Linked DNA regions of Homo sapiens: region 1 is linked to region 2. The links come from fine-mapping of genetic effects on gene expression. A gene starts in region 2. The other region holds a variant in brackets. All regions are shown on one strand. Distances are between the middles of the regions.

Region 1 (2,919 bases), 24 kb after region 2:
TAAAGAATTATGGAGCTCAGTCTTCCAGCTTCAACAGGAAGAAACTGGCACACATTTTCAATGGACTTCCTTATTAGCTAGAAAATTCCTGCTTTGGCAACAAAGGTATTGAGGTAGGACAGTGGTCCATCAGGAAGGGCGGTAATCACAGAGCTGTGAAAGTAAACAAATAGGTAGTGTCTGGAGATCACATTCAAAACGGTCCTTAAAGTACAGAGGCTGGAAATATTGCTTGGGACATTATTAAGCAGTTTTTTTTTTTTTTAAATCAACATGCTTTTCAGCGGTCATCACCAGAAATCAGCCAGAAAGTGGCCCATTGAGTTTGAACAAACCATCTCCATTGGTGGAAATCAAACATGACCTTCTATGGTCTCAGTCACCAAATTGATGTTTTAAGTAACCAAGCATTTATATCTCATTTAGTTGCAAGATCTGAAGAATAAACATTATTTTCACATTGGTATACCACACTTGAATTGTTTTGAGGTATTAATAATATATAGTCAGGCAAATTTGATAAGGTCCTTAGTGACTGTTTCTGAGTTCTGATGTATATAGCAATTGTATCTATCAGGGTTCTTAGCTGTAGGCTAAAAAGTCTGACTCCAGTTTAAGCAGAAAATAAATTTTTAAAAACAGTGTGAGATCACAAAACACCCAAAATATTGAAAATGAAGTACAGAAAAAGAGTAGGACGAAGGATGCTAGGGTGCAGTCAAGAACTTAGCCAAATTCACGGCACAGAAGAGGAACAGGTCTCTACCACTGAACACAGGATGATCCAGCTTCTATGGACATCTTAGACTGCTCTTAAAAGCACTGCTACTTTTGCCCCAGAAATCAGCACGTTTGCCCCATGGCCACTCTTGGCCATCAGAATGTATTTTCTGTTGCCCCTGTTTCTTTAATATCCTTCTGTCAGTGTATTTCAATTCAAAAACCATAGAGGGTGTTTCTTATGCTAAAATCTAGGTTATGTGTCTGCATCCTAGATGCACAAAGAGGTTGAAAAGCAATCACAGAGCATTTCAGCTTCAAGGAAGACATACGATTTGCCTCTCACCCAAAATACTTAATATTTAATGAATGCTTCTTCTGTGTTAGGCACTGTTGTATGAGTTTATTTGCATAATGTGGAGAATTTATTAAACTAGGAGAGATTCAGGGAGCTACATCAAATATGTAGAAAAGGGTGAAATAATCACTTAACTCATGTTCCAGAACATATTCCAAGTAGTGTTGTAAATAGAGAAGGAATCGTTTTGGAATAATTTATGATACTGTTTTTTTAGGATAAAAGTAAAAGTATAAATCTCCCTAGATTGGTCTACCATGTCAAAATTTCAATACCAGGAAGTTTGCTCTATAAATGCTTTGGTGAAGAATTTTTCATTGGGTTGATA[T/C]ATCTGTTTTTAGAAGAATGCTCCATAGAGATCAGAATTTTTTTTTCTTTCTTGAACCACTTCAGAGAGAACTCAGTGAACTAGCTGCCAATCTTGGCATTCAGTTCCCCCAGAGAGCAGTGTTATTTACCAAATTGGTTTTAGCTGACTACCAGAGAAGCAGAAATGTGAAGCAAACACCTAACTCCTTCCACATGTTGAATCCAGTACCAGGGAAGTAAAACTTAACATTTATAAAGAATTATATAATTTCAACTTTTTTTTCTGTCAATCAAATTCTTACTCCAGCATTCTAGTGTCTGAAGAATACTGGTAAGTAGTCTCAGGGTACCAAAGATAGGAGAGAGAGAGAGAGAGAGAGAGAAAGAGAAAAGAGAGGGGAAGGAAGGGAAGGGGAGGAGATTAGAAAAGAGAGAGAATATTTGACTTTTAGAAGTGTGGACACAAAAAAATAAAATAAAAATGTACTCTTGATGTTGTCAAATATAATCATACAGTCTGGCTCTCTTCACTTCCTGACCACATTCACTCTTGAAACACAAAATCAATTCCAGCTCCCTGAAGTCACTTGTTGTGGGTCACCATTAATACCCTAATTGCAGAAACTACTTTGAAATTTTTTAGTCTAGTATCTTAATCATGTTTGACCACTCTCTGCTCTTGTAAGCTCCCATCCAGGGCACAATCTCCTAATTTCTCATGTATCACAGACTAGTCTTACATGTCTCCTAGGCAAGCTTCTCCTTTGACCAATCCCATCTGTTTCTTAGACGTAAATCCTTAGGTTCTCTCCCCGTTCTCACCTAATTTTTTCCCTTTCCTGGGTGGTTTTATCAATGGCCTCATCTACCAACAACATGACTCATTAATTTCAAGTCTCCAGCCCAGCTCTCCCTCCTGAGCTTGTGTATTCTACGGCCAGCTGCTTATGCAGGGAATATTTATAACTAAATGTGCCATTGTAACTGCAGCATCCTTAAACTCGAATAACCTTCCCAGACAGATGCTCCAGAAAGTAGTATCTTTGTGATAATATGATTAAATGATAGGTATCATGGTACAAGCAGCTGGATGAGTAAAACCAGAGGATTATGTTTATGATAAAATAGGAAAATAAGAGAAGTTAAATATTCGGTATTTAAGAGTTTAACATGTCATAAAGAGAAAATAGATGGTGCAACTGAATGCATTTTTAAATTGAAATCTACCATGTAAAATTTTTTTATTATTTCAATAGACTATAAGTTCCATTAAGTGTAGGACAAAGATAGTCTTTCCTACCACTACACTGCAATTTCTCCAATAGTTGTGTTTTAATAAACATTTGTGGATTTCTGGTAATATTATAATAATGCCAATTGTGATGATGATAGTAAAGGTATTTTGCAGTAACATGTGCTAATTATTTGTTACTGGTACATTTTAGGTGCTCAGTAAATTTTAGTGGATAAAAGATAAAAGAGTAATTTTTTACACATTTGGGTTTTTTAAATTTTTTAAAATTTAATTTAAT
Region 2 (2,919 bases):
TGCTTAACACAGAGAATCACAGAGAACTGCATTTCCACTCTTCTCTCCCCTTTCAAAAGGCAGAAGAGTCTTACTCTATGGTCCTGATCATTACAGGCCCATGGGCAGTACCAGCAGATTACCACTGATGTTCCCTTAAGGCCCAAGGGCTCTTCAGTCAGCTTGTGGTGAATGCTGCCTGGCCTGAGACTCCACAGGACAGCGGATTCCCCTCTGGGCCTGATTAGGTTTAGAAATGTCATTTAAGAGCCAAGTCCTGCAATCCAGATTCTAAGAGACTCCTAGTTGCTTTACCCTGCTGTGGGTGAGCTGTGAACTAAGGTGCAAGCAAACTTTCCCCCTGCCTTTCTTAAGCATAAGTAGTCTTGCCTTAACACCACCATAACTGGTAATGTGCTGAGTCACACCTGAAGCCAGTAAGTATCAGAGGCTCACCAGAGGCCCTTTATGTAAGACCTGGATATCACTGCTGGTTGTTCAGGGCCCCAGGGCTCTTCAGTTAGCAGGTTATAAATTCTGCTAGGGCTGGGTCTTTCCTTTCAATGCAGCAGGTTCCCTTCTGGCCCAAGGTGTGTCTAGAAATGTCATCCAGTAGCTGGGGCTTGGAAAGGAGGCCTCATGACTCTGACTGGTGCTCTATCCTGCAGTGGCTGAGCTGTTATTCAAGATGTAAGACAATGTCTTTCCTGCTCTTCTCACTCCCCTCCTCAGTAGAAGCTCCTTTTGAAGCTGTGGGCTGTGCAGCTGGGGGTTAAGTAGTGGGGTGATGCCAGGACTCCCTTGGCTGCCCTAGCTGGTGCCTCAGTATGTCACATGCCCCCATGTCACTGGTTGTCAGCCAAGTTCAGCAGTAGGACTTGTCTAGGAGCTGCGGTCTTCATGGTCTAGATGGCCTTTAACATTAGGTAGGGCACCTGAGCACTTTAGCCCATGGTGGCAAGGTTTGTGGGAACTCAAGTTCAGACTGCTGGAATCAGGGATTCCCCCCTGGCAAGGGTTGGTTTAAGTGCTCCCTTGTAGGTTGGAGTCAGTTGAATTTGGTCCAGTTTTGCCATCTGCTATAACAGAGCAACACTGAATTCAATGCCTTACAAATGTTGTACTCCCCCTCTCCTGAGTTCACAGAATCACTCTCTGCATCATGCTGCTGCTGCTACAGGATGGGAGAATGGTGGTATCAGTGATTCAAGACTGTTTTTCCTACATCTTCAGTGCCTTTTTCAATGCTGTGGAGTTAAAACCAGGTACTGTAAGTGCTCACCTTATTTTTGGTTCTTATGATAGTACTATTTTGTGTAGATAGTTGTTAAATTGGTAATTGATTTTCTTGCAGGCAGCAACGGTGATCAGTTAAGCCTTCTATTCTGCCATCTTGCTCCACCCTGCTGTTTTTAAATATTTATTAAATCAGTCTGATCCTCTCTATTACCACTGCCCTAATGTGGACCATTATCAAGTTTTCATGGATTATTACAACAGCCTCTCTTCATGCCTGCAGTCTTAAACCCTTCCATTTTTCCCTGCAGAGAAATGTCAAAGTAACATGTCCTAAAATACAAGCTCATAGGAAATTTATTGTTCTCACATGTAGTACAAAGTTCAGGCTCTTCACTGTGAAGCATTCTGCATGGTACCTATGAGCTGTGCAAATGTCTGTTGAAGAAACAAATGGACAATAAATAAAGAGGTGAACAAGGCAAATAAGGCATAATCAGATTCCTTCATGCTTTCTCTTCTTCATCTTTTATCTTTTTTTATCGTGTACTTTTGCCTTCCACATTGATCCCTCCTTAGAACTACTCTCTCTTTCTTTGCCTTGCTAATACCTAATACCTAGTCAACCTTTTTTTTTTTTTAGACTGAGTCTCACTCTGTCACCCAGGCTGGAGTGTGGTGGTGCAATCTCTGCTCACTGCAACCTCCGCTTCCCAGGTTCAAGCAATTTTCTGCCTCGGCCTCCCGAGTAGCCGGGATTATAGGCACCCACCATCATGCCTGAGTAATTTTTGTATTTTTAGCAGAGATGGGGTTTCACCATCTTGTCCAGGCTGGTCTTGAACTCCTGACCTTGTGATCCACCCACCTGGGCCTCCCAAAGTGCTGGGATTACAGGTGTGAGCCACCGTGCCTGGCCACCTCATCAATTTTTAAGACTCAACTTAGAAGTAATCTCTTCACTGAAGTTTTCTGGACCCCTCCTCTTGCATTCCTCTCCCCACAGCATTTCAAATATTGGAAACCTTTCCTCATATTGATTCATATTAGCCTATTAATATTGTTTGGAAATTTGTCCTCTCCAAGACTCATGTTGAAATGTGATTTCCAGTATTAGAGGAAGGGCCTTGTGGGAGGTGTTTGTTTGGGTCATGGGAACGGATCCCTCATGAATGGCTTGGTGCCCTCCCCATTGTAATGAATTCACATGAGATCTGGTTGTTTAAAAAGGGACCTGGTACCTCTTTCTCTCTTTCTTACTTGCTCTCTCCATGTGAGATGCTGTCTCCTTTTGCTTTCACCATGATTGTAAGTTTCCTGAGACCTCACCAGAAGCAGATACTGGTGTAATGCTGCTTGCACAGTCTGCAGAACTGAGTTAAAACAACCTCTTTTCTTTATAAATATATATAAATATTAACCAGTCTCACGTATTCCTTTATAGCAATATAAATGTACTAAGACACCTATGTATATGTCTACCTCTGAACACAGCTCCACTGCATTTTAGCCATTTATTTTCATGTCTCTCGTTATACCTAAACTCATTTACTTAAGGACAGAGATCATATCATATATAAATATTTGCATCCTAACATGAAATTCACTCTTTTCCCTCACTTATAGTTACTTAATACATGTTTATAGAATGAATGCAGAGTTGAATAACTTAACTAATAGTAAATAACAATCATATTTTTCCAA

What was found. PIP is the estimated chance that this variant, and not a neighbour inherited with it, causes the effect.
Region 1: its variant is the best candidate, but not a certain one, in a credible set for the expression of LINC02070 in cerebellar hemisphere (GTEx, PIP 0.70).

What each region holds. Positions count from the first base shown.
Region 1 is chr3:86,504,593-86,507,511 of GRCh38, forward strand. No RefSeq gene overlaps it. Among named protein-coding and RNA genes, the nearest start is that of LINC02070, 24 kb to the left of the region's middle. The variant T/C (reference allele first, on the strand shown) is at 1,407.
Region 2 is chr3:86,480,814-86,483,732 of GRCh38, forward strand. LINC02070 (long intergenic non-protein coding RNA 2070) reads left to right here and starts at 1,130. Exons shown (of 2, transcript NR_135563.1): 1 at 1,130-1,244. RefSeq lists an enhancer at 1-1,116.